3 linked regions of the Homo sapiens genome follow. The protein of the gene in region 1 interacts with the protein of each later gene in a pairwise test. Each region holds a gene or a part of one and is shown in the gene's direction. Other genes may lie near its edges. The genes, in order: DYNC1I2, PPFIA1 and DYNLT3.

Evidence for each region.
Region 2: the proteins of DYNC1I2 (region 1) and PPFIA1 interact in binary tests that used the Homo sapiens proteins (3 or more experiments, as listed by UniProt).
Region 3: the proteins of DYNC1I2 (region 1) and DYNLT3 interact in binary tests that used the Homo sapiens proteins (3 or more experiments, as listed by UniProt).

What each region holds. Positions count from the first base shown.
Region 1 is NC_000002.12:171,742,212-171,750,658, forward strand, and holds the end of DYNC1I2 (cytoplasmic dynein 1 intermediate chain 2), read left to right. Parts: intron 1-1,837; coding exon 1,838-1,978; intron 1,979-3,590; coding exon 3,591-3,716; intron 3,717-5,564; coding exon 5,565-5,678; 3' UTR 5,679-7,947; downstream 7,948-8,447. UniProt on the Homo sapiens protein: Acts as one of several non-catalytic accessory components of the cytoplasmic dynein 1 complex that are thought to be involved in linking dynein to cargos and to adapter proteins that regulate dynein function.
Region 2 is NC_000011.10:70,272,271-70,283,527, forward strand, and holds part of PPFIA1 (liprin-alpha-1), read left to right. Parts: coding exon 1-166; intron 167-6,344; exon of another isoform or gene 6,345-7,133; intron 7,134-11,257. UniProt on the Homo sapiens protein: May regulate the disassembly of focal adhesions. May localize receptor-like tyrosine phosphatases type 2A at specific sites on the plasma membrane, possibly regulating their interaction with the extracellular environment and their association with substrates.
Region 3 is NC_000023.11:37,842,379-37,853,938, reverse strand, and holds the start of DYNLT3 (dynein light chain Tctex-type 3), read left to right. Parts: upstream 1-6,367; 5' UTR 6,368-6,428; coding exon 6,429-6,458; intron 6,459-7,580; coding exon 7,581-7,622; intron 7,623-11,560. UniProt on the Homo sapiens protein: Acts as one of several non-catalytic accessory components of the cytoplasmic dynein 1 complex that are thought to be involved in linking dynein to cargos and to adapter proteins that regulate dynein function.

The sequences.
Region 1 (8,447 bases):
GCCTAGGCTGGAGTGCAGTGGTGTGATTTCAGCTCACTGCAGCCTCGACATCCTGGGCTCAAACCATCCACCCATCTCAGCCCCCAGGGTGGCTGAGACTATAGGTGCATGCCACCATGCTCAGCTAATTTTTGTATTTTTTGTGGAGATGGGGTTTTGCCATGTTGCCAAGCTGGTCTCAAACTCCTGAGCTCATGTGATCCACCCACCTTGGCTTCTCAAAGTGCTGGGATTACAGGCATGAGCCATGGCACCTGGGCCAGCTTTATTCTTTTGCATATGTATATCTAGTTTTCCCAGCACCATTTCTTGAAAAGACTATTCCTTTCCTATCTAATTTTCTTGACACCACAATAACTTTTATGGAATCTGACTGAGATCCTTTTCTTTGCTATTGTCTACTAGTGAAATGAATTTTTGTGTATTTTTAGGAGGGAGGGAATGGGCAAGGATAACTTTCCTAGTTCATTTTCTAGGTTAAAGCTGTCTCTTCTCTGGCTTTTGCAAAGTGAGAATACATGTACCTTGTGCTTTCTGAGATGTGCCTTTTCTGCTTCTCTCCACCACTTCTGTCTGAACTTACTGCTTTGTCTCTTTTGTCTGGCATTCTACAACTTGGATTCTACTCCCAGCAGTTTCTCTTCTGTGAGACTTTGTCTTGGAAAGGAACTTTGATTTGTTAATTTTGAGAGTTTATAGCACCCAGACTGTACCATGAGAACTTACTTATACTGCACTGTAGTCTGCTTGCATTTACAGTTGACCCTTGAATAATGCAGGGCTTAGGGGTGCCAACGCCTATCCCAGCAGTTCAAAATCCACATATAACTTCTGACTTCCAAAAAACTTAACTACTAATAGCCTACTACTGACCAGAAACCTTTCTGACAACATAAATTGTTGATTAACACATATTTTTTATGTTATATGTATTATATACTGTCATCTTAAGGGCAAGCTAAAGAAATGAAGATGTTAAGAAAATCATAAAGAAGAGAAAATATATTTACTATGCATTAAGTGGATGTGGATCATCATAAAGGTCTTCATCCTTATCATCTTCACAGTTGAGTAGGCTGAGGAGGAAAAGAAAGAGGAAGGGTTGGTTGTGCTGTCCCAGGGGTGGCAGAGGCAGAAGAAAATATGAGTATAAGTGGATCTCTGCAGTTCAAACCTATATGGTTCAAGGGTCAAATGTATTTATAAATGGAATTGTGCCAAACTGCCCCCTAGTTTTTGCTGCTGTTCTCAGATTAGCCCACCACACTGTCCAGTGAGCATCTGCTATGACTGTGAGGTTCTGTTCTCCACCTGTCAGAAGTTCTCGTGCCTTCCTTCATCTTCTTCCCACACAGATACTGATACCATGCAAGTCTTGTAGTTGTGAGAGGTTTGTTTCCACCTGATTTTATTTGGAAGTTTGTCTCCTGATTCTGCTGTAGATGCTGTCTGTGAATCTTTGCTCTTCCTGCCCTCATTGCTTTATCTGAGTTTATGGGGAGAACTAGAGGAGATTTAAAAAGTACACTGCTATTGCTGTTATCTTCCCAGAATCTTCTCATTGACAGATGTTCTTGAAGCATGTTCTATTTCTTTTTTTAAACAGTATGGCATCTACAAGTTAAAAAGAAAATGCAATCAATAGTTGATTCTTAGTTTACAATACCAGGTAATTCTGTAGTGAAACAAATTGTAGGAACTTTTTCTAGGCTGAGTTAAATATCATAAAATGTTATCATACCTGTTGAATGTATGTCATTTTTTTCCCAGTGATAAGTAGTTTAATGATTTGTATGTCATATATGGACTGTGCTAAGAATCAACTTTTCTCTTTCAGAATAACAAGCCTTTGTATTCATTTGAAGATAATGCAGACTATGTTTATGATGTTATGTGGTCACCTACCCACCCAGCCCTGTTTGCCTGTGTGGATGGCATGGGGAGATTGGATTTGTGGAATCTCAATAATGACACAGAGGTGAGCAGGAAAATAACAAAAATTGCATTGAAAAATAGAAAATTGGATATTTATTGAATAATTTGTGAAATTCCTTTTTTTCCAAAGAATGTAAAAGGGTTCTGTGATTGTAGATTCATCACAAAGAACTCAAATAAGCTTTGTACCCTAAATAATAAACAGCATGCTGCGAAGAACTAAAGGGAGAAATAATGTTGCCAGGAGCACTGGGGCATTTCCTTTTACTTCTGAAAAGCACTATCATGTCTCTAATGTCCTGGCAAAGTCTCATTCATAAGATAACTGGGATGTTTTTCATTCATAAGCTAGAAAGCAGATAGTTTCAGACTGTTGAAGTATGTTAACCTTAATTCTGAATTTCTAAATTATCTCTTAGCCTTGATAGCATTGTATATCATCCATAAACATTAATCTTAGCCTGATTTGTTTGAAGGAAGGAAAAATATATTTTGATTTTTGATGAGTTTTTTCTATGAAGGATTGAAAACAGAGTGTTACTATAAAATGAATATAGAAACTATCAGATTTCCTAATTGCTGTACTAAAATCACTTATTAGCCATTAAATTTAATTGCAACTCTTATTTATTTTTAGTCACATGTATTTTTACCAGCTTAGAGAAGCTTAAAAATGTTCTTAGAATTCTATTCTATATTGCTATTAGTAATATAATTAATATTAGCATTTCTGTCAATAACAATTGTTGAGAGAGTCAACTCAGATCTCCCACATCTCTTCCTAGTTAGCTAGAATGGTACCAATTCTGTTTTCTTAATTTGGATTTTAGTCTTAGAGATTTGAAGTTACAATTAAATGTGGATTGAAATTTAATATTTCTTTATAACAATTTTGGTATTCTGTGTATGGGGTTAAATTATTTGGGGATGACTAGTACAAATTAGAAGGATTTTTTTGTCAAATTTCAAAATTTTTTAAAAATTTTATCATACTTTTAGTCTGAATCCAAACACTGAATGTTTGCTCCATGTGTAGCAAATAAAACTCTTCTTCCTTAGCAAAGAAGAGGCACAGTCAGATTCCAGGGAGCTGGTGCCATTGTGTTGGTGCCATCATCCTGGCTATCTCCAGCTAGCTCATGGAACAAGAGGCTTTAGACAGACTCATACTGCACCTTCAGTATGAACCGTTTCTAGGAACACTGAGTCAAATACAGGTTTCAGCTGATAGAGATACATGCTGCACAAGTGATTCTTGTCCTTTACAACTGAACCATAATCTGCTTATGAGGGCTTTTGAAGTGTTTTCTTTTTAAATGGGTTTTGGCCATGTGTTTTCAAACAGCTTGACTTCTTAAAGACATTAAAACAACAAAAAAGGATTCTTTATTCAAGAGAAGACCTTTCAAAATAATGTGTCTAGTCTTCTGAGAATTTTTTATACAAAGACTTATTTTCCCAAACCATTTTCAAGGATCGACTATAATGTCATTCATAATATATCACTGAAGAAGAAGAAAGTTGGGGAAATTCTTACCTGTTTTCATCTTTGTTTTTAAAAATGTAGCCAGCTTGAGAGAAGAATTACTGTTTTACATGTTTATAGAAATCTTGATGAAACTTTTAACACTGTCCTTTATTTTAAATGACTTTAGGTACCAACTGCCAGCATTTCTGTGGAGGGTAATCCTGCTCTTAATCGTGTGAGATGGACCCATTCTGGCAGAGAGATTGCTGTGGGTGATTCTGAAGGACAGATTGTTATATACGATGTGGGAGAGGTATGGGACTCCCTGCCTGTAATTTTGACACATCGATTTAGTTGCATTGTAGTAAAGGCATCTTTGTGGCTAACCCTAGGCTTTGAGGTTTATGAGTTGTTTAAACTATATGGTTGTAAAGATAAAACTTACTTTCTACCACAGAAGCAGCTCTTGAAACATTTTCTTTCTAAACCGAATGTTCTGTTTCCCATGCAACAGATTTTGAGGGTAATACAATAAATACATTGAAAATACCTTGTTTCTTGAAGCATGCATTGCTGGAAATTAGAAATTCTTTGGGGAGAAGTTTGGAGTTATAGGTGGACTTTGGGGTTTTATTGATATTGAAATAAGATTTATTTTTCTGTATTCATTAATTTGGGCCAGGTAGTAGAAACCAAAAGTAGTATCTTTTGAGAACCATCTGTGACTTTATGCAATGTGCATCTTGACTCTTAAGCCTTGATGCAAAGCCACAGTAATGGAATCCAATAGGATGAGCTGCAGCTCTCTCATCTTTGCTGCTCTGATTGGCTGAACACAAAGCCCAGGATGGATTTCCTCTTTTTTAACCCTGGCTAGGGGTTAAAAAAGTGACCTTAGTCACTTTCCTTTGCTATGCCTCATGATTTCTCTCCTCTCTGGATATCCCATGGCCTCTAGCAATTGGATCTGGTGGGAGGTAGATTTAATCATTTACAGCAGCCAATTAAACTATCTGCACAAATGGAAATGTTCTGTACCTGCACTAATATGGTAGCTTCTAGCCACATATGGCTATTGAACACTCTAAGTGTTGCTACTACAACTGCGTAACTGAATTTTTAATTTTAATTAATTTTAATATACACAGTCACATGTGGCCAGTAGCTACCCTACTGGATAGTGTAGATTTATAAACAGGCACAGCCATTTGCCACAGTGAGTGGTTTGTGCCCTAACATGACAGTGTCAGACTCCTATGATATTATAATGGCAGTTATCAAAAATATTTGTTATTGGGGCCGGGCGCAGTGGCTCACACCTGTAATCCCAGCACTTTGGGAGGATGAGGCGGGTGGATCACCTGAGGTCAGGAGTTCGAGACCAGCCTGGCCAACATGGCAAAACCCCATCTCTACTGAAAATACAAAAATTAGCCAGGCATGGTGGCACATACCTGTAATCCCAGCTACTGGGGAGGCTGAGGCAGGAGAATCACTTGAACCTGGGAGGCAGAGGTTACAGTGAGCCAAGATAGTGCCACTGCACTCCAGCCTGGGCAACAGAGTGGGACTGTCTCAAAAAAAAAAAAAAATTATATATATATATATATATATATATGTTATTGGGCTGCCTCTGAAGTAAAGCATCACAAGGCTCTTTTGCCACCAGTGCAGCACTAAAGTGGTAAATAGTAGCACAGCTTTTGATGAAGGAGTTAAGGTATCAAGAAAGATTACCTTATGTTCCAAAGAAAAATACTTACAAGAAACGAGCCCCCTTATGAACCATGCTTCAAACACTGTTTCTTACTAGGAATTTTGCAAGAATACAGTAAAAAAAAAATTTTAAGGAATTCCTCTCCAGCAAAATCCATGAGATGGTGCATAGGAGTTATATTTACAAAGCATCATTGTTATTCTCTCTTGCATTGGTGGTGATAATAGCCAAGTCATTTCTGAGGCTGTCACAACACACTTCACAAACACCGTCTTTTGTTTTGAAATGTTGTAAATCATTGTTATAGTCCCCGTAATTATGGAAAGGCCATTCAGGTCAATTATTACTTTTTAACAGAAAAATTATTTGAAAACAAACTGAATAATAGTGGGTAAAATGATCTTTTATTTCATTGTATATAAAACATTGTCTTTCTTTTAACAGCAGATTGCTGTTCCCCGCAATGATGAATGGGCACGGTTTGGCCGAACACTTGCAGAAATTAATGCAAACCGAGCTGATGCAGAGGAGGAAGCAGCTACCCGAATACCTGCTTAGTTCCTGAAAAGGGGAGTGTAACTAGTGGATTTGGGAAAGGTTCTTAAGTAGATCCTGAGACTATTTGCATGCTTCTGTCTAAATGATAATTAAAAGGAAATTTCATGGATTAAACCATGGGTTTAATGCAGCAAGGAAACTTACAATGTCCCTTTATATATAACATGCATCTTGTTTTGGATTTGTGTCATTTTTTAATATAGCTGATTGACTTCACAGAAAGCAGCTTTTTTGAATTCTAATACATAGGTGTATATTTGGTATTAGTTATTTTGAGTTCTTTTCAACTTATAACACTGTATACAGTTATTTCTAAAGCACAGATGAAATAAGTTCTGCATATTTTTAAATAATCACAGTTCCCTGTTATACAGATAATGTTCTCACTACCCATAATATGTAGGAACATTGTTTCTCCTTAGCCGTAGTATGCATACACCTATCCATGTTCATTCTGACATCCTTTGTTGTCTTTATAATTCATGTGGTAGTTACCTATAAATAAAAACAAATATGCGTTAACTTTTCAAATTTTCATTTTTACTCCTTACAACTTGAATTTTTCCATCTTTTATAAAATATATTTTTTCCATATCTTTCTTTAAGCTCCTGCTGTGAGCAGCCATCTCAAATCCTATAGAGCTGTGTACCCTAAATATACCATGTGGTATATACTATAGATCTCCCAGTGCATTATGAATTGATGTCTAGATAATCTGTTGGTGAAAAAATTTCCCCTAGGTTAACTTTTGCTTTACTACTTTATATTCTTTCCATCTAAGACATATTTCCTTTAAAGGATAAATAGAAAGCTGCCTATAATTTTCACTGATTAAGAACTATGTATGTGACCTCACTGAGAGTAAAATCTTTGAGAGAAATTGATTTCATGATTTCAGTAGCCATAAAGGCAAAGTGCTCAAATGGACCCATACTTTGGCATTAAAATCTACATCTTGAGATCTGTTGCCACAGCATTGTCTACAAGTCCGAAAGGTAGGTGACAAATATCTAAGAATCAGTATTGAAATCAGTGAATTTCAGGAATAGAGGAAAGGACTATGATCAGATCTTGATTTTATCTACTTTAAATTGTCTATTTATTTGATCCCAACCTTTTGTACTTCTGAAGTGTAACTGTCTTTTATTCAACAGAACATGAACTAGGAAGAGAGATTAGAAAACAGAATGTGAACATTTTTCTTTTAATAATTGTAACAAAGATTTGTTGGGAGAGAAATTTCCAAATAATGAGTAGTGTATAGTGTAAGGAATAATTGACCTGGAATTATTGGCCCCAAACTCTGATTCTTGCTGAAGCATCTATGAGAAGTGTGATTTTAGCCAAGTCTGTGCCGCATTCTTTATATGTAGGAATTAAGTTTTGATTTAATGATTTCTGAATTTTCTTTCAGCTCTACTCAATTAAGGGGTATCAGTATGTGAAATGGAATATAGAAAAGTAGGCAATTCTTTACTTTTCTATATTCAGTTTCATAAATTAATACCCCATAATTGCCCATTATATACCAAAGACAATATCTCAAGTTATCTCATTGTAGCAGTGTCTGTGAGTCAAAACTTCAATTTTAGTAGAGTCACACTTTCTTTATATAGAAAAATTCATGTACTCACTACTCATGTAGTTACTGTATCTTTACCTTCAGTTTGTAAAAATGACTAAAAGTAGGGAAAACAAGTGTTAAAACATAATGGATAAGAAAAGGTTGGAAATCATATGGCAAATCACATGTTCCTCAGCCTCAAGGTGTGTTTAGTTGTGAAAGAAAGAATAAAATTGTTTAAATATTTCACTTTTTGGGAATGACTTCTCCCCTACTCCCCCAGAAAATGCGATGTATACCTTTGCCCATTCAACTTTAGTCCATATTTTTAGGAACACACAAATTTACTTTAAGGAATTACCTTTAAAGTTGACTATATAATAGCAAAAGAGAAAGTATTGAGACTGTCAGTGTTGATAAAGCTTCTAGCAAGATTAGGTTGACTAGAAGTGCATCACAGTTCTTTATACTTTTAGAACTAAAAGCCTTATAATTTTGAAAAATATCCAGTTACAGAAATTGTACCTTATCAGTTATACTTTTTTTCTGAGTAAGAAAACAAGCTATAGCTTTCTGGTTAATTTCTTATTTTTCGTTGTTTGGTTTTTGTCTTTTTGAGTGGAACGTTAAAGTTTATTACCTTCATGTTAAGGAATATCCAGCTTCACAGACAATTAACTTGCAATAAATCTCTGAAATAATCATTTTTTGGTATTATTTAAACCAAATATGCATTGGTAGAAGCTTTCTTCCTGTTTACAGATCCAGCTCCCTATAAAGTTTAGAAAATCTCTTTGTATAAAATGTTGTTACAATAATGCTGAAATACTGCATCTCAAAGGAATGGATGACTTAAAATTTAGTGGGAGGAACTATAGGAAAGTCGTTTTAGGAATGATTGGTCCTAGTCTTTCAGTGTTGTTAAAATGTTTTAGTCTGTTCTGTACTAGTGTGGATAGACTAATATCCACCCCTTGAACCATACAGAAAGACTTGAATGGATGAGTGAAAATCTGCTGTGAAGCATATCATACTATCTTTGCTTTATATTGAGTAGTGCATTACTTTTAAGTCAGAAAGCCAGTAGGTTTTTTTGTTTGTTTGTTTTTCCCTAAAGCGCTGCCATAAATTTCAGTGGTCACCTGCCACTCACTGGGCGGTGTATTTTTAAATGTCTTTTCCACAACCCCAGTATTTCAACATT
Region 2 (11,257 bases), on another chromosome or scaffold:
TTCACATTTTGAACAGTTGATGGTCTCCATGCTAGAAGAAAGGGACCGCCTTCTTGATACACTGAGAGAGACTCAAGAAACGCTGGCCTTAACCCAGGGGAAGTTACACGAGGTTGGTCATGAAAGAGATTCCTTGCAGAGACAGCTCAACACGGCACTTCCACAGGTATGAGTGCTTTTAACCTGAAACTATAGATTTTTCTCCACTAAATGTTTTTTTATTAGTGTCATCTTTTGTTAATGTTTCAGATGAGTATTTTCCGTAACGATTTGTGAAATGATAGTTTCTGGTGTTTGTAAGTCAAATACAAAGTTCCTAGGGATTAAACTTCTTAGGGAGAACAAATCGTTGTACTCTAAAGTCATGTGAAAATACCTCATTATTTTCATTCCTATCTTTGGGAACTGCCTAGGTTCAGGAAGTTCTCCAGAGTTTTTGAAAAAGGGCTCTGAAGCAACCAATCTATTTGGTGCCTCCATTCTGTTGTCTTAAGCCTTTTCTGGCTAAACTTGTACTTCCCATGGATTATCTCATGTATTTCTAATTTCCTAATGTAATTTAATAGACAAATAGGATTGATTTCACGGAAAAAAAAAATTATTTTGATAGCCCACCTTTATCAGAACATCTAGGTTTTGTAAGTCACATTTGTTTTAGGGGATAGAAGACTCGAGATTGATTCCTTAGGAACTTTTTCCTTGGCAGATGAGAATTTTAAAGCTTAGGCCGGGTGTGGTGGCTCATGCCTGTAATCCCAGCACTCTGGGAGGCTGAGGCAGGCGGATCACCTGAGGTCAGGAGTTTGAGACCAGCCTGGCCAACATGGCAAAACCCTGTCTCTACCAAAAATACAAAAATTAGCAGAGCGTGGTAGCGCGCATCTGTAGTCCCAGCTACTCAGAGGCTGAGGCATGAGAATCACTTGAACCCGGGAGGTGGAGGTTGCAGTGAGCCAAGATTGCACCACTGCTCTCCAGCCTGTCTCAAAAAAAAAAAAGATTTTTAAAGCTTAGAACAACTGAAATTGTTTCTCTGAGTATGTTACATTTGGACCAGTGTTTGAAAGACTTTGCTCATGGAGTTGAATGAGGATTTACTTAATGGTAGGTAAAGGGAGAAAGTAAAAACTAGAAGAGTGTAAGGTGAGTGGCACGGGGCATAGTGGGAGAGAAGTGGGTTATTTATGTGTTTCAGAGCTGTCTAGGCGCCACGTTACTCATCATAAGTGCCTTTGGGGTGCATTCAGGTAGACCCGCATAAGCACACATTTATACTCGCATGATGGGTCTGCAGTGATAAATTAGTAAATGAATAAGTACTAGCCTTAATGTGTTTCTTGGCTGTAGTCAGTTCTCCTGAAAGATTGATAAGCCAAACGTGGGTTTCCTTTTTAGCAACAATAATTTGACGTTAGCGCTCTATGTTCCTTTTTTGTTGGATTAAAGAATCATTAAGATTTTTCTTATTTCAATCTTATAAATTACCAAGTTTATTTATGTTGAATTTTATTACTACAATTTTAAAAGAAGTAGCCAATTTATGTTTTACCAGGATTTTATTGTATTTGTAATTTAAGGTACACGTATTGAAGTGTATATCAAATACTAATATACTTAATAAGGTAGGTTTTGGAAAGAATGGGCACACAAGACATGTCAGGGAAGTGACAGGAGTTTTGTACAGTTAGTCGCAGGCTGTGGAGGTTGTCACACACACTGGTGACATGGTTGCTCAGTGATTTGTTTCTGGCACTGCTCAGTGTAGCAGCCTGGGAATGCCTAGTTCAGTGGATAACATGATGATGCCAACGGTTCACGTTACCACCTGAGCACCTGATTCCAGCCTTTCAAAAATGGAAACTATTAAGTAAACTTGTTTTGGACCCTTCCCTTTCCTGGCATCTGGTTCATCTTTGGTGGCTGGTAGTGTGACCAGATAATGAGTCCAGGAAGTGCATTTGTGCTCCTGGCACATTGTGGAGGCAAGTTAGAGTGTACTTAAAAATATACATAACTATAGCATACAGCAGAAAAATTCACAAATCGTAAGTATACATCTCAGTGGACTTTTCACAAAGTTAACACACTTGCATACCACCACCCAGATCAAGAAATGGAACATTATCAGGCTTCCTAGAAGTCCCCTCCTAACTATTCCCAGTAGTTGTCCCCCAGAGCTAACCAAGGTCTTGACCTTTCACCATTGATTACTTTTGCCTGTTCTTGACTTTGTTTAAGTGAAGTAAAATAATCTGTATGTTTTGCTTCTTCATTCTGTCGTCAGCATCATGTTTGTGAGATGCAGCTTGCTCATTCTCACCTGCTCTCTGGTCATCCCGTGCACGAACAGACAGAACTTATTCTTTCTACTGCTCACAGACATTTGGGGTTGTTTCCAGTTTTTACACGTGCTCCCCTAATATTGTTTGTTTTTTGGTGCAGATGTCTATAAACTTTTTTTTTTTTGAGATAGGGTCTCACTCTGTTGCCCAGGCTGGAGTGCAGTGGCATGATCTCGGCTCACTGTAGCCTCCACCTCCCAGGTTGAAGCGATTCTCCTGCCTCAGCCTCCCAAGTAGCTGGGAATACAGGCACGCATCACCACCCTCCGCTAATTTTTGTATTTTTTGTAGAGGTGGGGTTTTACCATGTTGCCCAGGCCGGAGGATATGTGTACACTTCTGTTGGATTTCTACAAAGAAGTGGAATGCAAATGATGGTGTGTGCATTTGTTCAGCCTCAGTAGAGAGTGCCAAAAGTGGTGGTTGTGACAGTTTGTACTACCCCAGCAATGTATGAGAAGTCAGTTGCTCCTATGCTCTTCAGCACTTGGTATTGTTGGGTCTTTACATTTTAGCTGTTCTGGTGGCTGTTAGCTGGTAGGTGGCTCAGTATGGTCTGAATTTGCTGCTCCCTGATGGCCAGGAACATGCAGAGGTAAAGCATCTCTACCTGTGTTCACTGGCCACCTGGATGTCTTTTGTGAAACGGTTATCTTTTGCCCATCTGTTGATTGGGTTGTCTGTTTTGTTTTTTACTGATTTGAAGGAGTTTTCTCTATATTCTGAGTACATATGTGCATGACAGATTGTTTTTAGACTCTTGTGTTTGCCTTTTCACTCTCTCAGTTGTATCTTTTGATACATAGAAGTGTAAAATTTTTAATGTAGCCCAGTTGATCCATCTTTTCAGTAATGTTTAATGCTCTTTGTGTCCTGTTTAAGAAATTTGCTTGGTCAAGTTCATGAGATATTCTACATTGTCTTCTAAAAACTATTTTTTAATCTTCCATCTGAAATTGACTTTGTTTATGGTATGCGATGGGGCCAAGAGTCTCTCTTTCTTTTTTTAAATGGATATCTAGTTGACCTTGCATAATTTCTTAAAAGACTATTCTTTCCCCAGTGTACTACATGCAGTGTCATCTCAGTCCAGTGACTGTAAGTGTGTGGGTCTGTTTCTGGACTCTCTTCTGCTCCTTTGATCTTTTTGTCATCTTTGCACAAATAGCACAATGTCTAAATTCCCATAGATATAGTCTGTCTTGAGATCTGGTAATTTAAGAAAAGGGTACTCACTCGGTTGCCCAGACTAGTCTCCAACTCCTGGTGTCAAGCGATCCTCTCACCTTGGTCTCCCAAAGTGCTGGGATTACCACTGTGAGCCACCACACCTGGCCCTGTAGATATTCTTTATCAAAATGTAAAAATTCTCCTCTTCTTAGTTTGCCAAGAGTTTTTTAAAAACCATGAGCAGGTATTAAATTTCTTAACATGGATTTTCTGCATCTTTTGAGACAGTCATGTGATTTTTCTGTTATGTGGGAATTTAACTGTTTTTGTTTGTTTATTTTTGAGATGGGGTCTTGCTCCATTACCCAGCCCGGAGTGCAGTGGCACCATCATAGCTCGCTGTAGCCTTGAACTCCTGGGCTAAAGTGATCTTCCCACCTCAGCCTCTCAAGTAGTTGGAATTATAGACGCACGCCACTGCGCCTTGCTTTTTTTTTTTTTTTTAATTGCATATTGTTTGTAGCCTGGGGAAGCAACTTCAGGAGCTCCTGAGAAAGAGCACCTCCCTTTTAAAAAAAATTTACAATTGTAGAATAATTCCAACCTGATCTTGATGTATTCTCCTTTTACTGGATTATATTTGGTAGTATTTTGTTTAGGATTATTGCATTTATATTCACGAGAAAGATTGACTTATAATTTCAGTTTCCTTCAGTACCCTTGTTGGGATTTGGTATCAAGGTTATGCTGGTTTCTTAAAACAAGGTGGAATGTATTCCTTCTTTTTCTACTCCCTAGAAGAGTTCCTACGAAATTTGTGTTTTCTTCCTTAAATGTTTGAAATAATTCTTTGGCAAAACCAGCTGGTACAGGGTTTTCCTTGTGAGAAGGAAAAATTTTAGAATTAATTTTATAGGTAGATGTAGGATTTTGAATATTTCTTCATGTGTCTATTTAGATAAAGCATTTTTCCCCGCTAGAGATTTGTTCAGGCCACCCAGACTTTCCAATTTGTAAGTTTAAAGTGGTTTGTAATCCTTATTATCTGCAAGATCTGTAGTGATGTTCCCTTTTAATAATTCTTGATATCAGTAATTCATATATTATCTCTTAATCAGTCTTGTTGGGGGTTTGTCAATTTTGTAAGTTCTTTTAAGGGACCAACTTTCGGCTTTACATTTTTTTCTACTTACATTTGTTTTCTATTGCATTAATTTCTACTTTTTTTTTTTTGCTTTTTTTTTGTTTGATTGAGATATATATATATATATATATATATTTTTTTTTTTCCAGGCACAGTCTCATTGTGTCTCCCAGGGTCAAGTCCTTAGATACTTGAACTGGATTTAACTCCCTCCTACCTTTTGTGTCATTGTTTTATATATTTCAGTTTAATTTATATTTATTTTTAAAAATAGAGACAGCGTCTTGCTGTATTGCCCCAGCTGGTCTTCAACTCCTGGCCTCAGGTGATCCTCCCCCCTTAGCCTCCCAAAACAATGGGATCCAGGCGTGAGCCACTACACGCTTTTAGCTGCATCTTACAAGTTTATGTACTTTAATTTTAGATATACTTTTGCAGTATCATAATTATTTTGTACAGTTAATGTTTATTTAGATTTATCCTCTTAGTTACCATTTTTGTTGCTCTTCATTCTTTATTGTTGTTTCATGTTTCTGCCGGGGATTATATTTCTTGTTTTTTTTTTTTCTTTTTTTCTTTTTTGAGACAGAGTCTCGCTCTGTTGCCCAGGCTGAAGTGCAGTGGCACGATCTTGGCGCACTGCAACCTCCATCTCCCATGTTTGAGCGATTTTCTTGCCTCAGCCTTCTGAGTAGCTGGGACTATAGGCATATGCCACCACATCCGGCTAATTGTTGTATTTTTAGTAGAGACTGGGTTTCACCATGTTGGCCAGGCTGGTCTCAAGCTCCTGACCTCAAGTGATCTGCCTGCTTCAGCCTCCAAAGTGCTGGGATTACAGATGTGAGCCACTGCGCCCAGCCTATATTTCTTTTCCCTGAAGAACTTTCTACGGTATTTCTTTGAGTTCATATCTGTGGATAATGAATTGTCATTTTTGTTTGCCTGAAAATTTTCTATTTTGCCTTTAGTTTTTGTTTTGTTTTGTTTTGTTTTGTTTTTTAAGATGGAGTCTCGCTCTGTCGCCGGTCTGGAGTGCAGTGATGTGATCTTGGCTCACTGCAACCACCGCCTCCCGGGTTCAAGCAATTCTCCTGCCTCAGCCGCCCGAGTAGCTGGAACTACAAGCACGTGCCACCACGCCCAGCTAATTTTTGTATTTTTAGTAGAGAAGGTGTTTCACCATGTTGGCCAGGATGGTCTCTATCTGTTGACCTGGTGATCTGCCCTCGTCAGCCTCCCAAAGTGCTGGGATTACAGGCGTGAGCCACCATGCCTGGCCTTTTTTTTTTTAAATGTGATGTTTCACCATGTTTGCCAGGCTGGGGTCAAACTCATTGGCTCAAGCAGCTGCCTGCCTCAGCCTCCCAAACTGCTGGGATTACAGGTGTGAGCCACTGTGCCCAATTTGCCTTCAGTTTTGAAGGATGATTTTGCTGGGTATAGAATACTGGGATCGTGGTCATTTCCTTGCACCATTTTGTAGCAGCGAATTCATTGTTTTTTTAGCTCGCTTCCTTTTTCTTGACAAGTCAGCTTTTGGTGTTATTGTTGTCCCATTTGAAGTAATACTTCTTTTTATTTTCCCCTCTGGTTGCTTTTTATTTTTATTTTTTGGAGAGGATATGACTTTTACTGAGTTTATCCACCAGAGTGGAAATAATGTTTGTGCAAAACCAAATGTTTGTTACTATAACTCTCCATCACAATTAAAATCCAAACAGTTTTTTGAAAACAGTCAACTCAATCAAAACCCACTACTTCAGAATCAATAGCTTCTTTGAAGCCACAGTAACAAATATGGTTAAGACTTGAATGTAGAAATTTGTTGGTTGGAAAGCTAATTAAACTTCCAACTTGCTCAAGTAGAATTACAGAAAGGCAGAATTGTGTTTTTCACAGAGATATAGTTCACTGGAATCAGCCACACTGGACAGCTGGTAGAGTGTTTAGGGTCCTGAGATAATAAGGAATCCAGGCAGCCTTTAGACAGTCTGCTGTTGTCCTTTCTTCCCAATTAGAGATTTGTGGATGTGTGGAATGACACCTTTACCAGCAATTGTAGACTTGAAGAGAGAGCCCAATTCTTTATCTCCACGAATGGCAAGTTGCAAGTAATGAGGGGTAGTATGCTTTACTGTGAAGTCTTTTGACGCATTTCTTGCCAGTTCAAGTACCTCTGCGGTGAGGTACTCCAGGATGGCTGTGCTATTCACAGCGGCAGTCGCGCCCACACGTCCAGGACTGATTGTCCTAGATTTCAGGTGTCAGTGAATACGGCCCACCAGGAACTGCAAATTGGCTCTCTTGTGAGTGGGAAGCTGCCTTTGTTGGCCTTTCTGGAGTCCTTCCCAGCCTTACTGCCAGCCATTTTCAATTCTGCTGAAGCTCAAACAGGCAAGGCAGAGAAAGGACTAATCAGACACACAGCAAGATCTCACCATCTACTCATTCCTCACACCAGGATTTGAAGCTGCCTCTGGTGGCTTGTAACATTTTCTTTGCTTCAGGCATTAGCAAAACTTGGTATTTGTTGTATTGGTGGCCTGGTTCCTAATCAATTTTGGAAGTTTTGGCTCTTCTCTCTATAAATATTCCTATTTTCCACTCATCTTCACTCAGAGGGCCTCCATTTTTGTGTACATTAGGCATTTTTTTTTTTTTTGAGATGGAGTTTCGCTATTGTTGCCCAAGTTGGAGTGCAATGGTGTGATATACATTAGGCTTTTATCATGTCCTATGTGTCTCTTGTGCTCCTTTCCGTATTTTCTAGACCTTTTCTGTGTATGTGTCTAGGTGTGTGTGTGTGTGTGTGTGTGTGTGTGTGTGTGTGTGTATTTAGTTTTTAGAGACTGGGTCTCTCTGTTGCCCAGGGTGGTCTTGAACTCTTGGGCTCAAGCAGTCTTCCTGCCTTGGCCTCCTAAACTGTTGGGACTACAGGCGTGAGCCACCGTGTCCGGCCTGTGTGTGTGTGGGGGATGTGTGTGTGTGTATATTTTTGGGACAGGGTCTCGCTCTGTTGCCCAGGCTGTAGTGTAGTGGTGCAGTCTCAGCTCACTGCAGCATCTGCCTTCTGGGCTCAAGCGATCCTCCCACCTCAGCTCCTGAGTAGCAGGGACTACAGGTGCGTGCCACCACACCTGGCTAATTTCTGTATTTTCAGTGGAGGTGGGGTTTTGCCATGTTGCACAGACTGGTCTCAAACTCCTGGACTTAAGTGATCCACTTGCCTCAGTCTCCGAAAGTGTTGGGATTACAGGCATGAGCTAGCATGTGTGTATATATGTGTGTATATATATATACGTACATACATATATATATATAAATATATATGTATATAAAAATTTTTAAGAGACAGGTGGCTGGGTGCAGTGGCTCACGCCTGTAATCCCAGCACTTTGGGAGGCCAAGGTGGGTGAATCACTTGAAGTCAGGAGTTCGAGACCAGCCTGGCCAACATGGTGAAACCCTGTCTCTACTAAAAATACAAAAAATAGCCGGGCATGGTGGCACATGCCTGTAATCCCAGCTACTTGGGAGGCTGAGGCAGGAGACTCACTTGAACCTGGGAGACGGAGGTTGCAGTGAGCCAAGATCACGCCATTGCACTCCAGCCTGGGTGGCAAGAGCGAAACTCCGTCTCGGGGAAAAAGAAAAAGACAGGCACCCTGTTGTTGCCGAGGCTGCAGTGCAGTGGCGCGCGTGATCACTGTTCACTGCAGCCTCAAACTCCAGGGCTCAAGCAATCCTTCTGCCTCAGCCTTCTGAGTAGCTGGGACTATAGGTATGTGCCACTGTGCCCAGCTAATTTTTAAATTTTTTGTAGAGGCAGGGTCTTGCTATTTTGCCCAAGCTGTTCTTAAACTCCTGACCTCAAGTGAGCCTCCTACCTTGACATGTCAAAGCACTGGGATTACAGGTGTGAGCTATTGTGCCCAAAATCTAAAGTCCAGATTTTTTTTACTGACCCATCTTCCACCTCACTCATCCCCTCTTCATTTGTGTCCAATCTGCTGTTTAGCCCATAGATTGAGTTCTTAATTTCAGTTATAATTTTCAGTTCTAGAGTCTGCTTAATTCCTTTTACTATTCTAGTTCTCTAGTGAAATTTTTTCCTTTTGTCAAGTATATTTTTGAATAGTTGACATTTGCATCTGATAACTCTATTATATGGGTCACCTCCGGATCCATTTCTGTTTTTCTTTTTTCTCTAGGTTCATTTGTTGATAACGCCCATTTTTGTTTTTTTAATTGAGTCAGACATTATGTATGAAAAACTGTAGAAAGCGCTGGGTGATGCTGTCTTCCTTCAGAAAGTTTCCCTCTGTCATCTGGCACATGCCCAGAGTAGGGACAGATCATCTCAGCTCAGTCAGGGCCTGGGTGACCAGAGGCTGGGATTCAGTCAGTAAGCGTCAGTTGAAGCTGCCTTCCCCCAACCTCCTGCTCCTGGTGTAACCATCCGGGGGTTCCATCTGAAACCCTGGAGTGTTTCCCAGGGCCCCTCTTTCTTGGCGTGTCCTGGAGCCCAAGTTTTGTCTCCTTAACGCCATGAGACTACTGAAAGCCCAGCTTCTCGGCCAGGTTTGCAGAGTGTTGGGCTCATTTCCTGTGTCTCCCTTTTCTCTGGGATCTTGGCCCCTTAAGTCCTGGCTGACTGTCAGGCCTGTACTTCTTTTTGTCTCCCCAGACCCTTGGGGCTTTCTAGAGCTCTGTAGCCTCTACTTTCTGCTGAGTTTTCTTCCCAGTTATCAGTGTACTGCCCCCAAATCCTTCCAAATTGTCAAATGCACTGACAGAAAGAGTGGGGGCTCTGAATAGTGGACTCACCTCAGTGGGCCTCTCTTTGGTTTGGAATGTTGGTCCCTTCATTTGTGGCTGCCTTGGCATCTCTTTGATGCCTGCAGACTTTCAAGTCATACTCACCTTTTCTAGTTTTTGGTGGGTTGCCGGGCTACAGGCCACCCCGCGTATCACTGAAACTGGAGCTGAAGCGGGCGTGCTCTCTCTGTCTGCAGCATATGCGGAGTCTGGAGACATTGGTTATCATTACTTGATAGGGAGCATACAGAACCCACTCACCTCGCTTAGGCTACCTTGTCCAGTTTCTTTTTTTTTTTTCCAGTCTGCTTCTCATGACATTGTCCAGTTTCTAATCAGAATCCCCCATTTGCCCCTGCCCAGTCACTTAACCACTTAAAGACAGTAGAGCAAGTGGCCTGCCCAGCGGGAGACACAGCCCTTGGCCTCCAATTCCCGTCTTGGCCACTGTGTGGGCTGTTCCACCCTGCTGTAGTCTCTACTCTTCCCCATGCCCTGTGTCAGACCGAGGGAGGGTTTGTGATGACATATCTGGCAGTGGCAAAGAAGGAGGCTAGGGAGGTAGGAGAGGTTGTGTGCGTGGTGTTTAGTCTTACTTTGGAGATGGGGTCTTGCTGTGTTGCCTAGGCTGATCTCCAACTCCAGGGCTCAAGCCATCCTTCTGCCTTGGCTTCCTGAGTAGCTACCACTACAGGCATGAACCAGTGTGCCCAGCTACCTAATGTTTATTCTATGACTTGATCCCATGTATGTTTCCTTTTTGAGTGCTGATTTTTTTTTTTTTTTTTTTTTTTTTTTTGAGATGGAGTCTTGCTCTGTCACCCAGGCTGGAGTGCAGTGGCGTGATCTCGGCTCACTGCAAGCTCCACCCCCTGGGTTCACACCATTCTTCTGCCTCAGCCTCCCCAGTAGCTGGGACTACAGGTGCCCGCCACTACATCCAGCTAGTTTTTGTTTTGTATTTTTAGTAGAGACAGGGTTTCACCATGTTAGCCAGAATGGTCGCGATCTCCTGACCTCATGATCCACTGCATGCCTTGGCCTCCCAAAGTGCTGGGATTACAGGCGTGAGCCACCGTGCCTGGCTTTTTTTTTTTTTTTTTTTTTTTAAGAAGGAATTTTGCTCTTGTCGCCCAGGCTGGAGTGCAATGGTGCGATCTCAGCTCACTGCAACCTCCATGTCCCAGGTTCAAGCGATTCTCTTGCCTCAGCCTCCTGAGTAGCTGGGACCATAGGCGTGCATCACCATGCCCGGCTGATTTTTGTATTTTTAGTAGAGACGGGGTTTCACCATGTTGGTCAGGCTAGTCTTGAACTTCTGACCTCAGGTGATCTGCCCGCCTCAGCCTCCCACAGTGCTGGGATTACAGGCATGAGCCATCATGCCTGACCGACTGACCGAGTGCTTTTTTTTTTTTTTAAAGCAAATATTGCCTTTGGGCTTCTCTCTAATTTCATTTTAAAGTTTCAGTTGCATTTTCAAATGGAGATTTTATTTTAAACTGGAGTGCAGTGATTTTTACAGTCTTTTTGAAAGCAACAAATGAGATTTTTAGAAGACCTCTTGCTTGAAGAACTCTTTTGTGTGAAACCTAGAAGAGAGACTGTTCACCTTTCATTGCAGGTGAGGTCCCAAATTTTGCCAGTCTCTCTCCCAATCTGCCAATCCCTGAAGCAGGGGGTACAAAACTCAGAAGATTCTAAGGAATGAGGTCTTCAAATCAAATCCAAACTTAGTGAAAAAGAAGTCTACCTGTGTCAGGGGTGTTCCCTGTCAAAG
Region 3 (11,560 bases), on another chromosome or scaffold:
CTATTATAGCATTTAAGTTGGTCACACAACCACCTGCAATCAAAAACATTAGCTATGATCAGTGGAGGTAAAAGGGAGAGGGGATGAAGTAACACAGAATAGTTGCTATAGTCCTTGCCTCTGTAGCTGGGCAAGTGGATGGATATTGATGGAGAAAAGTGATAGGCTATACTGGATTCCTGAACCTATTCCTTATAGATCTGCTATATCCACCATCCCAGCACACAGCATTGTAAATAAATCCTCCCTGAATTAATATTTTGGGAGTTTCATCTGCTTCCTACAGAGACTCTGACTAATATGTTCTTTCATCAGTTTTGGAAGACCTTCAGCTAATATTTCATTAAATATTGTTTCTGTCCATTCTGTCTCATCTCCTTCTGGAAATCTCACTATGTATGTTAAACTTTCTCATGGTATTACTTTTGTCTGTATGCTTTCTTCTGTATTTTACATTAATTTATGTCTCTGTGCTTTACTCTGGCTATTTTATTCTGTCCATTTTTTTTTTTCTGAGAGAAAGTCTCACTCTGTCACACAGGCTTGAGTGCAGTGGCATGATCTCAGCTCACTGCAAGCTCTGCCTCCTGGGTTCAAGCCATTCTCCCGCCTCAGCATCCCGAGTAGCTGGGACTACAGGTGCCCACCACCACGCCTGGCTAATTTTTTTGTATTTTTAGTAGAGACGGGATTTCACCATGTTAGTCAGGATGGTCTCGATCTCCTAACCTCATGATCTGCCCCCCTTGGCCTCCCAAAGTGCTCGGATTATAGGCGTGAGCCACTGCGCCCCGGTCTATTCTGTCCAATTTTTTAAGCTTCACTTAATCTTCAGCTTTGTAGGAACCACTATAGAATCGATTCTTTGTTCTTTTTAAAAAATTGGTTACTGTATTTTCTACTTCTAGAAATTCCATTTGTATACTTTTTATAATTTCAAGTTATTGGATGAAATTCTCAACCCTGTCTTTTATCTCTTTTAATATAGTAAGCATAGTTATTTTAAAGTCTATTTCTGATAACTCCATCATCTTCATCCCTGATTGGGCTGTTTCCATTGTCTTTTGATTTAAGATAATGTTGTTTTGTCTCGTTATGTGTCTAGTTATATTTTATTGTCCACTTGATGTATGCAAAAAATCATATGTCTGATTTGAGACCTAAGATAATGTTTTCTTCCTTCAGAGAGAATTTACATTGGCTTCTAGAAGTTGGCTAGAGGCATTAGCAATTCCGGATCACCTTAATTCAATTTTAGGGGTTTGGGTAATTTAAAACTGAGATTCAGTCTGCAAGATCAAGTTTGAGTGTTTCACTCCCAGGGTTTAATCCATGGGGTTTCAACCCAAAGCAAGACTGTTTACCAGAATCATCTTCCTTGGCAGGACATGCAGTCTGATTATTTTACCCCTTGGCCCATAAGCAAAAGGCTTAACATCTTCTCACCTCGAGGTAAAAAGTTATCCCAAATGCCATGCTCATCTTTCTGGGTTTCATTATTCTATGTCTTAGATCCATAATTCTTCCCTATCTTGTTAAAAAATCCAATTCCCTTGAGCAAATGTCTATTATATTTTGTCCAACCTTTGTAATTATCAGTGAAAGAGATGGTCCTAATTACATAGTCTACCATTACAGAAGTCTTTAAATATAATTTTAGTGGTTTGTAAAGTGGGTCCAAATGTTTTTTATCAGCTGCTTCTATGGCAAACCTTTCTAGACAATATAATTTATTCATATTTAGGGAAAATTAATTATTAAAAACTCATTAACAGGAATTGCTTATGGCTGTTCAATGCGTAGAGCCAGATATAAAATATTATATGGGTGAAACCAAGATTGAGGGTCTCACTAAAGCATTGAAAGAGGTTTTATTTGGAAGCTTTAAAAAATTCAATTTTAACACCCTTTCTATTTTATTTTTTCATATAATTATATAAAGTAATGAAAATATTTTTTCACCAAGCCCCATACAGATGCCCACCAAGCCCCTCCAGTTTACCTCAATGTACCATGTAAGTATTATCCTCTATGTGGGCCATAGCATGGAAAAGTTTGGAAAGGACTGACCTACCAACATTTACTTTATATCAATTTTTTTTTTCTTGCTGGCAGAACTCACTTTTCACCATACAGAATGAAAAAACAAACATTTGTTGTCCCATATGTTTTGCCCGGTGGGGAGTCACGTGGCCCAATCTTGGCCACTGGAACCTGAGGAGAAAACTCCTGAGGACTTGAAATAAAGATTTTCTTTCCTAAGAAAATCCGATCAACCCCAGAAAATGCTCATCTTAGTCACTGAACGTGATATCTTTGTTCCTAGCGATACCAGAACTAATGCAGCCGTGTATGACCATGAGGCTAAATGTTGCTGACATGCTGAGGATATTGGCATGGAAAGATGAAAAGCACAGAAGCCCCAAAATTTGTTGAGCAACTAAACGAACCTGGAATATCTCTGCCTCTGTATGTCTGTGTATTAGTCTATTCTCTCATTGCTTTACAGCAATGAGAAATACCTGAGACTGGATAATTTATGAAGTAAAGAGGCTTAGTTGGCTCGTGGTTCTGCAAGCTGCACAGGAAGCAGAGTGACTCCTGCTTCTGGGGAGGCCTCAGGAAACTTACAATCATGGTGGAAGGTGAAGGGGAAGCAGGCACATATTACATGGCTAGAACAGGAAGAAGAGAGAGAGGAGGGAGGTGCTACACACTTTTAAGCAGCCAGATCTCATAATAACTCACTCACTTACTCTCACAAGAACAGCACTGAGGGGATGGTGCTACCCATCATGAGAAATCTGCCTCCATGATCCAATCACCTCCCACCAGGCTCCACCTCCAACACTGGGGATTACAATTCAACATGAGATTTGCTGGGGACAGATCCAAACCATATCAGTCTGGTTATATAAAAAAATAAATGCCATTATTTCAGCTCATCCTATTTGGGTCTTCTGTTACTTGCAACCACAGGATGCTAGTTAATAAACCCACTTGTAGTTTTAAAGCATGAGCCCCAAATTATTTGACACTTCTCCCATTGAGAAGTGGATTATGTGTCCCCTCCCCTTGAATCTGAGTGAATGTTTCAATGATTAGAGTATGGTAGAAGGGCTGCTGTGTAACTCGTGACACTAGGTGATAAAAGGTGACATATCTTCTGCCATGCTCGATGGAACCCTCATGCTTGGAGCCTTGAGTTGCCATGTAAAAGATCTGGCTACCCTAAGGTTGCCATGATGGTAAGAAGCCAATCCACTCGGTGGGGCCATGTGTTGTTGCTCCAGTTGGAAGTGCTAATATTTTATTCATCCAAGCCCAGATATCAGACATGTGAATGAACAAGTCTTCAGATGATTCTGGTCCCCACCATTGAATTTCCTCCAGTCTTTGAGTCTCCCCACCTGAGGCCCCAGACATCACAGAGCAGAGGCAAATTATTTCTGCTGTGCCTTGTTCAAATTTCTGACTAAACGAATCCATGAGCATAATATAGTAAATAAGCTGCTAAATTCTGGGGTAATTTATTACACAGGAATGGTAACTGGAACAACACTTCTTCATCTCACTTTATATGCATCATGAATGATCACATAACACAAACTTGAGATGTGCTGGTGTAGCTCTTGCAGTATTAAGATTAGGTAACTTCAGGGTTTAACCCACCCAGGCATAGAAACAGTTCTTTAGGGAAATAAAACTGATGTTCACAAAGACACTACGAATCCTTCTCATGAATAGACTGCCGGAGTTGCTCATAGGATGAAAACTTTGGTAAAAAAAATTCTTGAAAGAGGATGTGCTTCCTCTATGAATTACAGTCACTTTTCTGCAGTAACCCTGCATGATCCACAACTTAGGAGAACCAATAACAAACACCATACTATCAAGTAAACAGCCTTGTTTGGTTCTAAGTTCATAAAATAAGAGCCTGAGGTTCAGAAGCCCAGGAGTCCAGTTAACACCTATGTGCCCTGTAGAAGTTACTTTATCTTCTCAGCTTCAGTTTTACTTGTAAAATAAGGGAGATGGACTAGAAGACTAATGGTTTCCAACTTTGATTCTGGGGAGCAAAATAGAAAAGTGTTGTGGTTGGCTGAATAATGCTCCCCCTCAAATTTGTCCACATCTGAATTCTGAGAATCTGTGAATATGATACAGAGTGCAAAAGACACATGGCATATGTGATTAAGTTAAGGGTCTTGAGAGGGAAACAGGAGGGCAAGAGTCATACATCTCTCGTTTATAGAGATGCCTCACACTTCCTTTGAAGCAGAAGCGAGAGAGGAGAAAAGATACTACTGGCTTTGAATTTGGAGGAAGGGGTCATGAGCCAAGGAATGCAGGCAATCTCTAGAAGCTGGAAAAGGCAAAGAAACAGAGTCTGTCTTGGAGCCTCCAGAAGGCATGCAGCTCTATGGGCCCATTTTAGACTTCTGACCTCCAGAACTGAGGCAGGAGAATAGGGTCAGGAGGCAGGGAACTTAAAACTGTTTCACGCTTACTTCATAGAACTAAATTGAAAGGAAAACCCTGGCCAGGCACAGTGGCTCACGCCTGTAATCCCAGCACTTTGGGAGGCTGAGGCAGGCAGATCACTTGAGGTCGATGAAGTCGGGAGTTCGAAACCAACCTGACCAACATGGAGAAACCCCGTCTCTACTAAAAATACAAAATTAGCTGGGCGTGGTGGTGCATGCCTGTAATCTCAGCTACTCAGAAGGCTGAGGCAGGAGAATCGCTTGAACCCGAGAGGCGGAGGTTGCCGTGGGTGAGCCGAGATCGCGCCATTGCACTCCGGCCTGGGCAGCAAGAGTGAAACTCCGTCTCAAAAAAAAAAAAAAAAGGAAAACCCTAACCTTCCATACCTTCCATGCCTAAGTAACAAAAGGACCAGAGGCTATTCCCTTTGCAAATCCCCACCTTTTCTGCAGGGCAGATGGGAAATTTAAAGTACCTCTGATTGGTTGCTTTTTGCAACCAAAGAGCAAAAAGCAACCAATCAGACATTTGCACAGGAGTGGAACTTTGTAACTTCACTTCAGCCTCTGATTGGTTGCTGTCTGCAACCAATCAAACTGATTATGGGCCAAATCTTTGTTTGAATAGAAGTGCAACTTTGTAACTTCACTTTAGCCTCTGATGGTTGCTTTCTTGCAACCAATCAGACGTTTGCATAGGAGTGTGGCCTTTGTAACTTCAGCCTCTGATTGTGGGCCACTACTTCATTTACATGGGGTGCACACCAAGTGGCCAATGGGAAATCTCTAGGGGGTATTTGGACCAGAGAAGATTCTGGATCCCGGCCCTTGAGCGGCTTCTCTGCCCGCTCCCACCCTGTAGAGTGTACTTTCGTTTTCAATAAATCTCTGCTTTTGTTGCTTCATTCTTTCCTTGCTTTGTTTGTGCGTTTTGTCCAATTCTTTGTTCAAAGAGCCAAGAACCTGGACACCCTACACTGGTAACAGAACTGTAAGAGAACAGGACTGTGTTTCTTTAAGGCACTACATTTACGGTAATTTGTTACAGTAGCAATAGGAAAGTAATACAGTGGTTAAGAGCTTGGGCTCTGCTATCAGACTACTTGAGCTCAAGTCCCTTTTCTACACCCTACTGGCTGTATGACCTTGGGCAAATTAAATTCTCTATACCTCAGTTTCATCTTGATAAAAGCAGTGATGGAAGAACTAACTCCTCTGACTTATTGTGAGGTTTTGAGGAAGTGTCTAGGATCATCTGGAAATTAGTAATTTATTTTAAAATTACTAATTTAAAATTACTACATTTATTTTAAAATTACTAATTTAAAATTACTACATTTATTTTAAAATGTAGTCATTGTTCTCTTGTTGAGAAGCATCTACTTTAGGAGCCGTGTATACAGCTTCTCATCAGATCCTTACAACCAGTAGTGAAATAGGTATGATGGTAAGTTTCCATATGAGAAAACTGAAGCTGTGGGAGGTGAATTTTTCCAAGTAACATAGCTAGTAAGTGGACAAATCAAAGTGGCTGGTTTACCACGAAATTAACTACATTTATGTGCCACATGATGGTGAATGAACAAATACGTGCAAGTAATCACAGCAGTGGGCACTCAACCACTAGTGCGGAGTCTAGACTAACTGCCACTAGGTCACCCCATCTGATCCACACTGGCGCCATTCCCAGTTCTTTACATTCATCCCTTGTTTCCAGAAAGGGCAGAGGAAGCGAGGAAAAAGTGCGTGGCCTGAAGTGACGCCTGGCGTTGCCCGAAGCCCGCCCAGCGCTGCCAGGTGACGCCACTGCGACACAAAGGCGGGGATTGCGTAGGGAAAGGCCCTAGGCCATAAACGGGGGTGGGGCCTCCCCGGAGGCCAGTGCGCGGCCGCGGTGCTCTACCGGCGTGTCGCTCCGCCCCAGGGAGAGCCGGCGCTACCATGGAGGAGTACCATCGCCACTGCGACGAGGTACCGCCCCTTGGCTACCTGGGAGCGCCCCCCACTCCCGCCTTCCTCTGCGCGGGGCTCTTGCCGGGTGGTCTCCCAGCGAGGGCGGTCCCAAGAGTTGGGGTGCGGCGTCCTCCGAGCCCGGGTCCTCTCCCCTGGGCCCGGGATCCGCCCCGCCCGACCCGTTCTCCCCACCCCAAAGTCCTGAGATTCGGGGTGGGAGGGGTGGCCAGGAGCGCGCGGATCAGACGGTGGGGTCGGGGCAGGGTTGGGAGGACGAGGCCTGACTTGGGTGCGAGGAGTGGGCATGGGGTGACGGGCGCCGCCCTCCTACCGGGCGGGCCTCGAAAACGGGTCTTCCCGCTGCTGCCTCCGTCCCTTGGCTTCCTCAGCGCGGGTGCTGCAGCCCCCATGGCTCGGAGTCTCGGGGTCCTGGTGGCACTGCCATTCCCGCTCCCGGTAATGCTTGCCAGGATTAGGCAAGGAGGTGCTTTATGGATTACGAGCCCTTGCTTACTGACTCAGGCTTTCCCAACCCTCACCAGAAACCCATGATGTCAGTTGTTATCTCCCTGTTATTGATGGGGACTCCAAAGAAAAGACTAAGTTGTCAGACCACTTTATAGTACTAAAGTGATATTAATCTTGAGTTATCAAGTATTTTCATAATCTTTAATTTGGGAAAGGAATTTTTGCCTAGAAATTTTTGCCTAGCATAAGTTAAAAACAAAATTGAAAATAGTCTACTAAGCATTCTCTTCATATGGACCACTTCATTCTCTCACTTAGCTGAAACCATTTCTATATTCTTATGACACATAACATCCTCATAGTCACCTCTTGCTTATTTCCTACGTTTTACAATACAATGATTCTTAATCTAGGATGTTCATTAGAATCACCAGTATAAAGCACTTTTTTAAAAAAAAATGTAGACTTGCAGGCTCTGCCCCAGACCTCACGGGAGGTAGGTAGGGAAAGCATTCAGTATTTTTAAGTGTTTAGGGGCAAGATTGGCCCCTTCTGTAGACCTGATGCCCTTTAACACTTTAACACCTGTCTAGGCCAGCCTAGGATATTCTGTGTAGCGTCATACTTGTAAGCCTGTGTTGAAAGCAGCTTTACCTTTTGTTTTCCCTTTAGGTTGGCTTCAATGCTGAGGAAGCCCACAATATTGTCAAAGAGGTGAGTCATACATTTTGTTTCTCTTGAAGCTTGCTGCACTGGTGGAGATTTTTAAAAGCTATATTTTGAGTTTCAGCACAAACTTAGAAACCTTACTGTTAAAAGAAGAATATTTTGTTTTGTTTTATTTTATTTTATTGTTTTTTGAGATGGAGTCTCGCTCTGTCACCCATGCTGGAGAACAGTGGTGTGATCTCAGCTCACTGCAACCTCCACCTCCTGGGTTCAAGCAATTCTCCTGTCTCAGCCTCCCGAGTAGCTGGGTCTACAGGCGCCCGCCACCACACCCATCCAATTTTTGTATTTTTAGTAGAGACGGGGTTTCACCTTATTGGTCAGGCTGGTTTCGAATTCCTGACCTCCGGTGATCCACCCGCCTTGGCCTCCCAAAGTGCTGGGATTGCAGGCGTGAACCACCACACCCGGCCAAGAACAAGATTTTAAATATTTATCCACTAACTCTTTATAGGGGTCCTTCTATATTTTGTTGTGTGCTATCAGCATCTTGAGGCTTATTCTGAAAGAGATGCTTAAGGATTTTCTTAGTCTAGAAAACTGGTTTAAAATTGATGCCCTGTCTTTTGGATAAAATAACTTTTATTCCAGAAAGCAAACATTATTTTAAATGTTAATGCTATAAAGTATATGTACGCATATATATGTACACACGTCAACTTTTATAATGTAAAGTATATGTATAATATATATGTATATTGTATAAAATAGATAACAAAAGCCCTAGAAATATCTGCCTTTGGGCATGTACACTTTTTTGCCCAATATAATTGGAAAAAATGATCATTTAACATATTTTAAGCATTGATATGATAGTGAATCAAAATTTTAAGAAAAATATTTGAAACTCCTTTTAGGCAAATAGAAAAGAAATTACCTTTGGGAATTAATTCTGGCAGGGGACCGTTCATTATTTTAGAGGTATCACATACAGACCACAGTGTGGGAAAGGTATTTTTTGACACCCAGGTCTGGCCTTACACAGCTAGAATTAACTCAAGGTCTGAGAGGAATAGACAGGCACCTGAAAATCCTGCCATATTTGAATACTTCAGAATTATGCATTCTATCTATGTAGCCTGAGAGTATTTAATTATTAAAAGTAGAAAGCAAAGGTTTTTAATACCTTTACAATGTAAAAGCACAAATGAGGGAAACTGGGAGGTGGAAGAGGGAGTGGAGGTAATGAGAAGGGAGTGATCTTAGTTTTCAAAGTGGCAAGTCAGGAAAGACTGTCCTTGGTTGATGGAACATAAAAGAAAGAATGCTGGGCTATTTGGGATTCCATTTAAATAGTGCCTTCTTCCTTAAGTTCTGAACCAAATGAAAAGAAAAAAGAGCCATTAGAAAGAGAACAAAATACCACCTTTATTATTGATAAAAACCAGTTTGATGATTGTACCTTGTTTTGCTAACTCCCATTCAGTTCAGCCCTGGGAAGAGTCATCCAAGAGAAAGTTTGAGTCAGCAGAGAGAAACACTTGTTCAGGCTGGTGCCTTTCATTGGTTTGGGTGGAGAGGGAAGGAGAAACTAAAGCCCAAGTTCAACACATTTGGGAGACTCCCAAATGAGATGTTAGAACAATGGTTATCACCCACCAACCAGGTAACTCATTCCACCTCCATGGGGAGGAATAACTGACAGGACAAGAGGCCAGGAATGTTAAAGAACAATCCTCTGCGTTGAAGAAAACATCCAGAGTGGAAAAGAAACATGTTTCTAACAGTGTAAATATATTTAAGTTAAAAAATCGTGATTTCACTATATTGAGAGAAGGGGGCGGGTGGTCTGAGGGAACCAAATTTTCATCTATCATAGTAGGAGTTACATGGATGTTGCCTATAATTCATAAATCAGGAAATAGTGAGATAAACATTATTTGGAGATACATAAGTAACCCTTGGAAGAAATAAAAACAGTTGTACACTGATGAGTTTCCTCTGGGGAATGGGACTGGGGATGGGAAAGGAAAGGGTGGGAAGGAAACTCTTCATTCTAAGCTTTTCTGTTCTACTGGATTTTTCAAACCATATGCCTGTTACTTTAATATTATATCAAATTAAAAGAATCATGCTTTTTCAACTGGGAAATACATACTCGGCAGTGGCTAGGTGGTGCTAGAAGTCACTGGATGCATTTTAGAACATCAGTTTTTCTTGAATATTTGTGAGAGGGAGTTAAGTAATATAAATAATATAACTGAAAACATTTTTGAATAAAAACAAACTCTGATGCATTATGTAGTCAAAACAAGCTTCTCTTGAATTTTTATATGAAATATGAGACTGCAAAGAAACTCAGCTTTGCTACAGGTTACTTGCAGCTAAATGTCTATCTTTCCTCTTCCCATGAACCAACCCTCTTCTGCCATTGAAACATTTCCATTGAGACATTGGAAATGCCTGAGAATGAGCAACATTTTAAAACAGTTTAGCACTTCCTAGATGATTACATAATTTCAGCAGTTATTTCTGATTTCCTTACTGATCTTATTTTCTTATTGATCTTATTTTCTTTCCTTTGATTTCTTGCTCTGAGCCCCTATGCTAATATGTTTTTCCTTCTGAACTCAGAGACACCCATTTATCAGTAATATGCATACATTTTCTTTAGTGTTAGTAATAGAAATTGCTTCCCCAAAAAATCGTCGAAGAAAAAGTGAGCTACAAATGACTTAGAATTTAGTCTAAAGTGTATTTGATTTAAGATACCCAGCGAGTATATCAAAACCAATATTGCTTCAACAACATTTGTTGAATACCTGCTAAGTGCCCAGGTCCTGAGTTTAGCACTGAGAATACAGAGCTGTTTAAGGACCTCATTGTCTCATGGGCCTCCATGTTAATGTAATTAATTAGGCTAGATGTTAATTAATAGTAATTAGCAGGGCTATTTACAGTGGCACCCACACCCCATGGTGTTTTCTGCTGTTTAGAGCAAAACTTGGAGTGGTCCTACTAAATAACCTGAAAGAAAAATGAGTGCTCTTACTTTATCCTTAAGGAAAGGTGATCTCAAGAGAGGAATAGGTTTGTCCAAAGGTCACCAGCTTAGGAATGGTAAAGCCAGAATTAAAATTCTATTCCCCTGATCCTTAAGCCACTACCCTTCCTACTTTGTCATGTTATTGAGCTTTCTAGGAGAAAAATTTGAGCCATATTACTTTTGTCAACCTTGCTAAAATATTTCATTTCTCTTTTCATATTTTATCATTAGTGAAGATTTTATACTATCCAACTTAAGATTTTGTATTAGTGCCTTCATAAATCTTTACTGTGGTCTAATTATAGTAAATAAAGCTGCATGTGTGTGTATGTGTGTATTATTAAGCTAGATTCTAAAAATGAATTAAATGAGTCTAATGATAGTAAATGAAGCTGCATGTGTGTGTTAGATTCTAAAAATGAATTAAATGAGTGCTTTATTATCCAGGCTTTATCACTCAAATATAAAATATAACAGCAGCAATATGATAATAGTAGTTAACATTATTTATATGCTAACTCTGTGCTAGTCCTGTTTGAGCACTTGGTATTCATTGTCTCATTTCATCCTAACAACAACCTGATAAGATGATGCTGTTATCCTTACTATAAGGATTAGGAAAATAGGGATTTGAAGGGGTTAAGTCACTTGCTAAAGGTCACATAGCAGATAGGTGTCAAAGTAGGCCTTAAAACCTAGGATTGTGATACTAGAGCCAGTGCTTTTAATCAGGTGTCAGAAGTGGATGAAATCAAGCACTATGGGAAATTATGATATTTGACTTTATCTTTCTAGAGCATCTTTATTTACTTTCAGTGGCAAGTGTGCTAGTTGTTTCATAGCTAAACAATCACATAGTATGAATGAGAATATAATCAGTTGTTGTTTCATAGCTAAACAATCACATAGTATGAATGAGAATATAATTAGTATACAT